2 linked regions of the Homo sapiens genome follow. The protein of the gene in region 2 purifies or fractionates together with the protein of the main gene of each other region. This does not show direct contact. Each region holds a gene or a part of one and is shown on either strand. Other genes may lie near its edges. The genes, in order: SYNJ1 and HOXA2.

Region 1 (3,196 bases), on a different chromosome or scaffold from region 2:
CGCCTGCCACCACGCCCGTCTAATTTTTGTATTTTTAGTAGAGACAGGGTTTCACCATGTTGGTCAGGCTGGTCTCGAACTCCTGACCTCATGATCCACCCATCTCGGCCTCCCAAAGCGCTGGGATTACAGGCGTGAGCCACCACGCCCGGCCCTGGCCTTTTAATTTGGGTCTCTTTAGGCAGTCCCTTTTTCTGATTGGCTATTTTTGTCCCAATTCCTCTTTGCCCCCCACTTGTTCCTTCTACTTTGGGTAAGAAAAATCATTCATATTTCTTGTATTATTTTCAAGTCAGCATGTTTTTGCGTGAGGGCCTCTCTTATGGAATAAGTGCATGGACTTTTTTTTTTTTTTGAAACAGAGTTTCGCTCTTCTCGCCCAGGCTGGAGTGCAATGGCACAATCTCGGCTCACTGCAACCTCTCCCTCCCAGGTTCTAGTGATTCTCCTGCCTCAGCCTCCCCAGTAGCTGGGATTACAGGCCTGCACCACCACGCCCAACTAATTTTTTTTTCATATTTTTAGTAGAGATGGGGTTTCACCATGTGGGCCAGGCTGGGCATGGACTTTTTAATAATGATTAGTAATCTCGGAAAATCTTCTTAGTTTTAGAGGAAGCACTATCTGGAGAAATGAAAATAAGGTCTTGAATTAAAATATCTGATTCGGCAATAAGGGTTAAGCTTATTTTGTTTGAACGTCACCAAACTTGTGTATGTAAAGTACAAGGAAAATGGCTGAGAAAAATTCTTCCCTTTCTAACAAAGAAGTCAGCATGGTAAAGACAGATATATTTATTTCATATGACAGCACGTTTCACAGGATATGTACAGAATGTCTGTGTACCACTGACTTTAATACTGTACTTCTATAAAGTTTATAGTTATAAATATTGTATGCCACATAAGCAATAAAATTCTTACATATAAACAGCAATCTAATATAGAGAACACAGAGTTCACAAAGAGATCCTTAGTGTCTAACTTCTGCTCTGCTTTTAACAGAACTAGTAAATATTTAATAATACATAGAATAATGGCTAGTTATTTGCAGCATACCTTTAACTTTCATAACTTTGTGCATTTTCAGCAACTTGCCAAGTATAATTTTCCTGATAAAGGCTGGGCTGCTGATATGTATATTTTAGACAGTAGTTTATATTCAATAGGAAACATTGCTCACAGATCTGCAATTTGCACTAGTGAAGTTTACCTAACAATGAATTATTTTGCTAATGGAGAGCAAATACCATATACACTAGTCACATGGATGTTAAAGCCACAGTTTCAACAAGTTAATTCACATTTTGAAGCAACTGCTTATAGTAATACTGCTGTTTAAGACGCTACTGCTGAAATGATTAGAACCTCCAAAAAGCACAATATAAAACTCACAAGAGTTATTTCTAACAGCAAATCTTGGCTGTTAACAGAGAAGATTACTTCTATAAATATAGTATTTTGATAACATTTGAGCATTTAGAAAAATGCTTTTTTTCTAATAGATTTGCTTTATAAGTGCAGTGCAGTTTGCTGTGCTTTTAACATTCTACATATTCGTAGCCATGAACGCTATTTTTTGATATTCCCTCAATGTACATCTTTAAAGGTTAAGTGTGGACATAGGAATTTAGGTGGACATATACAACTCTTTATATAAAAGGAATGTTAATGTAAGTCTTAATGGGTAAAGATGATTGTAACTGAAACTGACAAAGAAACAACTATTGCTCAAGGAGTTTTCTGATTGGTTTACTTAATGATATCAAAATACTACATTCTGTAAAAATTCTGTGTACTTCTTCAAAAAATTAATAAAAGCGGGATCAGTTGCATATTGGCAGTGCAGGAGACAAAATCCGCAGCTACTTTGAGGTATAGCCTCTAAAAACTTAAAGCAGCATCATAGATGTGTTATGTAGCCTCGTAAGAGGGGGGAGAACACACACTGGGTATATTCCCAATTCAAAGCACTCAGGGGACAGCTGCTTTCCCTGCTAAAAGCAAAGTTCCAGAGCAAAAGCAGCAAAAAGAAAATATGGGAGGGATATGGGCAACGTATACTCGAACGTACGCAGAGAAGAGAGTACGGTTAGCTCTAATATTTCTCATTGAACTTGGTGGTATGTGCCTTCCCTGCATATAAGGCCATAGTGCTTTTTTGGGAGCGCTAGAATATCCATCCACTTGACAGTGACCACAAAATAGGCTGTTTCCAGCTGCAAGAACCTCCTCCTGGAGAAAAGCGTATGAAGGTGCTGGAGTGAAAAGTAACAAGGTTGTGTGTATTTGAAGGGGTTGGGTGTGGAACGGTAGAAAATTCTGATTCTGTGGTGAGATTATTCTAGTTTTGAAAACAAAATTAATGAAAGGTCCAAATTACATTTGCAGCCATCTTTTTGGTAATGTGATATTGAAAAAGGGACTTTGTTGGAACTTTTAGGTATAATTTGGTCTGAGTTATAGCCTAGAAATTAAAGTATGAATTGTAAAAATATGTAAATGTATACAGAAGTACATGTGTTTGTATGTATTATATATGTACACATACCTATACTTTTTTCCTTTAAAGCAATGCCTTTCAAAACTCTGTTCACTGTAACCTTGGCAGCTCTTTGGTAAATACTCAAAGATACCAATTGTTAACAAGTATGAGAGGGCTGGTGGAAATGTCAGCTGAAAGTTGGGTGGGCTTTTTGAGATTCTTCAGAAGACTGACCGAAAAGTTTCTGAATAAGGACTGTTTTCTAAAGTATAAGTACTTTTTATGGCTACTACTGTCTCCTATTCATCCAAAGAGAAATACATCAAAACTCCAGTTAACAATGAGAAGGGTTTTTCCTTATTTCCAATATACACATAGTCCAACTCTGTACACATCAAATAGTGGTGTTTTGTGAAGATATCAGTGCACTTACAATGACTTATTGCACATAATGAAATACTAATGCCCAATTCTCTTAGCTCTATCCTGCCAAAAGCAAGTACCCACTGTTTTCTATTGCATGGCGTTATCTTTCTGTAAAGTCCAGTGTGGGTGAAGCCTTAGAGGCCAAGGTCGTGAAAGGATCTACTGGAGGGCTGGTGCCGGGCGGGAGCAGAGGGACAGGAGGTGGAGGAGGTCTTCTTGACGGCAACACACAGAAGGAGACATTTGTACCTTTATTCCAGTCATCATTCAATGTCAGGTTGGAGCC
Region 2 (4,327 bases):
AAGTGTATAAACAAATGAATTGTTGATAACTTAGTTATTGACCTGGAGACTGGTAGCTTATTAAAGAAACTCCGTGTTACTCATTCCTGGAGTTGGGGGTTTCTGTAGGCACTTTATTTCTCCACTTTCAAGAGCTTGGGCTTGGCCCAAATCTTAGACTGTCCAATTCTGCCTCTATTACCAATTTAAATCTATGGCTTGAACCTGTGCACTGAAAATCAAATCCTTTAAAAAGAAAGAGGAGAAGAAGAAGCAAAAAAGAAAGAAAAAACACTTATTAGAAGCCCTAGTCATTTTTTGGCTTTCTGTTTTGTTGCTGTCCATTGAAGACTTTGAACATGCCGCCTTAATAAATGTATTAAAATTGAAAAAAGAGGATAAATTGTGACGAATTTTATTTACGAAGTTAGACTAAAAGAAGAAAAAGAACCCGTTATGAGCCTTGAAAAAAGAGGGGGAGAAAAATAAGCTACTTATAGCAAAGGAGAATTTATTCTACAAAAAATATGCATGACAATGCATCCCAATGTAATACAAAAATAAAAAGAAAGTGAAGATACAATTATATGATCACTTTCTTGCAGGCCTCATACTGCTCTCAGGAATCACATAAAGGGTTGTTGAGTTAGGTTTAAAACAACTAAAACTCCAAAATAATCTGTAAAAGATGGCTCTGTTTGAAACTGGGTCAGGGAATCACTAAACAGAAAATCCTCAACACTTAAAGGAGGGAAGGGGTAGGTCAAGAAGAAAATAAAAAATAAACTCCCAAATAAAAGAAGGCAAAACCACCTGGTCAAAGGAGTTTTTGTTTGGTGATGCTTTGTTTTGCTTTAATGTTTTTAGTAATTCAGATGCTGCAAGTCGATTGTGGTGAGTGTGTCTGTAAAAAAGTCTAAGCTGTCAGCTGAAATATCTACGGGACTGTCGAGGGAACCTGGCAAACTGGGTGAAACTGCATCTGAAAGCTGCAGGCAGGAATCTGTGGAGAAAACGCTAAAGTCCTGCAAAGAGGGGACCTCAAGGGCCTCAGGACTGTCATTGTTTAGGCCAGCTCCACAGTTCTGGCCCATTGTTGACAAGCAGTTGGGAACAGTGGGTGACTGGTGCTGAAAATGTTTCAGATTTTTCTCATTGCTGGTTAAAGGCGAGACTGGGAAACTTTGGGAGTCGCCATTGTGTCCATTGGGAGCCTGCTGCTGAGAGAGGGCATTTTGCTGAAAAGTGTAGCCTTCCCTCTCCAGAAGGGCCCCAGAGACGCTAAGGGCTTGCTCAAAGAGCGTCTTCTCTTCCTCGTCCTCCTCTACTTTCTCGGAGTCCTCAAGGCTTTTACATTTCCCTTCGCTGTTTTGGTTTTCCTTGCACTGGGTCTGCCTCTTGTGCTTCATCCTCCGGTTCTGAAACCACACTTTCACTTGTCTCTCAGTCAAATCCAGCAGCGCTGCAATCTCCACCCTTCGGGGTCTGCAAAGGTACTTGTTGAAATGAAATTCTTTTTCCAGCTCTAGAAGCTGTGTGTTGGTGTAAGCAGTTCTCAGGCGCCGCGATCCCCCGCCGCTGCCATCGGCGATTTCCAGGGATTCTGCGGAAAGGGAAACCAACAAGAGACACACGCACAGTTGGAGGTGGAGGGGTCCGAGCGGGGTTATTCCACTGGAGAATAAATATAGCAGAAAAGATCAACTGCAACAAAATGGCCGCCCCTGGATGCAGTAGAGCTATTGTGCTGCCTTTCCTGGGAGCCCAGCCTGGGCAGACCCCGTCTCCTCCATCTCTATCGAATTCATGCCTGTGGCTCCCCCCAACCTCTTCATCCGGGAGCAAACTTTATATTAGCCACAACACAATTTATAATTAATGCGTCAGCTGCTTAGCTGAGCAAGAGCGATCTATCACTCTTCATTACTGTCAAAAAGCCAAACTCTAGGACAACTAGACAGGAGGAGGTCAGTTCCAACTCAAATAAATCATCCCACATTACACAAGTTCGGGAAAGTTTCCCCCCACTTCCTAAAAATATATATGTCTCATTGTAGAGCGCAGGATCCCCTTTCCTCTCCATCAAACCCACTCCTGAACCCACAGGGGCAGGGACAAGGCAACCAAGCATCTCTCCCTCTCCTCCTTCTCTCCCAGCCCACTCTCCCCTCCCCCCACAGCCACTCTCGGGGCAGCCCGGAGAAGGAAGAGGGTCCCAGAGACCTGGGGCCAAGTCTTTGGACTGACCTTTGTGGCTGAGGCAAGCAGGGCCGGTGGCTGCGGCGGTGGCGGCGGCGGCGGCGGCCGGCAGAAGTGCGGTTTTCTTGGCCGCCTTCTTCTCCTTCATCCAGGGGTACTCGGGCGGCTGCAGGGCGCCGGCGGGCACCGGGCTGCCGCGGCTGCCCGCGGGGCTCGGCTTGGGGCGGCCGCCAGCGCCGTGGCGAGGGTGACTGCCGGGGTTCAGGCTGGGAATGGTCTGCTCAAAAGGAGGAGGAATCAGTGTCGAGTGTGAAAGCGTCGAGGTCTTGATTGATGAACTTTGAAATGTATCAGCGACAGGGGGAAAAGATGTCAGGCACTCAGCGAGCGACGGCTGGCTATTGATAAAACCAATCTCTCGCTCAAATTCGTAATTCATGGCCTTCTCCTTGGAGCCCCCTCAGAGAAAAAGTTCCCTCTTTTGGAGGGGCTTTGGGGGGGCAAGGCCTAGGAAAAAGGCGAGCGCAGAGGAAAAAAAATCTATCATAGAATATCGCTGCTAGGGTGTTTTTTTTCTAATTCACTGATTACAGCCGTATGGGGACCGCGCTACTATTAAACTATTGAATTCATGGAGACAAGGTTGAAATTGGACCGAATTGGCTGTCACATGATTGCTTCTGCCCAATGACAATTTGGGCTTTAATCAAAAGAAGCCACTGTCTGTTTGATTGATCCAAAAAAGTCGGGAAGGAACGCCTCATTGGGGGCCAGCGAGGCTTTATTTACACTTTTTTCAGAGCAAAAATACATATATGTTGGTGTGGGTGGGGATGTCCCGGAGTACGTGGGGGCGAGGGTGCCTGCGTGCCTCCTGATCTGCAAGGATCTATCTAGTGTGTGTGCCTGGGAGTGTGTGTGTGTGTGTGTGAATGTGCGCGAGTGTAAGCCCTGCTGTCGGTCCCGCCGGTGGCTGCCCTCTGCCTCCCCCGCACACTCCGCGCATTGTTTGGGACTGTCGGGAAGACGCCTCGCACCTCACAAATCATTTAAGCACCTCAGTCTGACGCCTGCAGTCATTAACAAAGTAATCCATTAATCTTCAAAGTTTTGACACCCGAGGGCCCTGCGTCCCAGCCACATAAGTTCTGTTAAAGCAGGAGAAAGGAGCAGAGGAAGAGAGGAGATGAGAGAGGGAGAATAAAGAGAGAGGGAAGAAGAGAGAGTTTGAGAGATGGAGAAAGAGAAGACAGAAAAGAGAGAAGAAAGGAAAGATTTTGGTTGGGAAGGGGTCTTCCTTTTCTTTCCCTTTTCCTCCTTCACTTTTCCTAAAAGCAGTTCCTGGATCTCAAAACTGATCTCTCTCGGTCTGTTTTCCTTCCTGTCTGTCCCTTTCCCTCTTTTTCCTCTTCTCCCCCTTTCTCCCTCCCTCTCTCTTCTGTCCGCCTCCCCTTCTCCCCTCAGCCTCTCGCCCCCCTCCCAGTGTCCAGCCCAGAGTCTGCGCCCCGGGCCCATTGTTAGCAGGCTATTCCACGGCAGCTTTGCATCTGGCTCCGGCGGGAAGCGGAAAACGGGAGGCGGCTCTCGAAGCTTCCCGACCTTCCTGCGCCATCAACTTCTCAGGAGTGGCTGGAGAAAGATGCATGTGCCAAGCGAGACAACAACCCCAGGTCCATGTGTCCAAATCCCCGTAGCCAGGGCGGCGGCCAGCCAAAGAAATGCCGCCCCGAGCAGGCGCGTGCGGCTCCTGGCATTCTGGGTTTCATACCCGTAGGGCTCGGGTGCGGTGAGTATTTCCGATTTCCAGGAAGTCTGTTGGAAGTTACCAGCAGGGAAAGAGAAGATGCTTGCTCCTCTCTTTCCCTCCCTCTCTCTTTTTTTTCTACCCTTCTTCTTGTCCTTGTCGCTCTGGTTGGGGGCTGGTTGGTTTAGATACAGCGAGTGCTCCCTGGCAGCCTGAACTGCCTCCCACACCTTCCTGATCCTTGGGCACCGGGGATGTTTGCTTCCGGGTTCTGTTGTGGGAAACAGCACTGCGGGGGAGAGGAGGCGACCCAAGGAGGAATTATAAAGGTTTTCGTTCTCCTTCATTATCTTTTTTCCAATTCGGAGACTTGAGACTGAGCGCATCTTGGACAGTGCTAGAGGG

What was found.
Region 1: the proteins of HOXA2 (region 2) and SYNJ1 purify together in Homo sapiens (affinity purification with mass spectrometry; one large-scale study listed by BioGRID and IntAct). This does not show direct contact.

The regions. Positions count from the first base shown.
Region 1 is NC_000021.9:32,627,985-32,631,180, forward strand, and holds the end of SYNJ1 (synaptojanin-1), read right to left. Parts: coding exon of another isoform or gene 3,011-3,196; 3' UTR 779-3,010; downstream 1-778. UniProt on the Homo sapiens protein: Phosphatase that acts on various phosphoinositides, including phosphatidylinositol 4-phosphate, phosphatidylinositol (4,5)-bisphosphate and phosphatidylinositol (3,4,5)-trisphosphate. Has a role in clathrin-mediated endocytosis.
Region 2 is NC_000007.14:27,099,884-27,104,210, forward strand, and holds HOXA2 (homeobox protein Hox-A2), read right to left. Parts: upstream 2,801-4,327; 5' UTR 2,618-2,800; coding exon 2,227-2,617; intron 1,583-2,226; coding exon 843-1,582; 3' UTR 471-842; downstream 1-470. UniProt on the Homo sapiens protein: Sequence-specific transcription factor which is part of a developmental regulatory system that provides cells with specific positional identities on the anterior-posterior axis.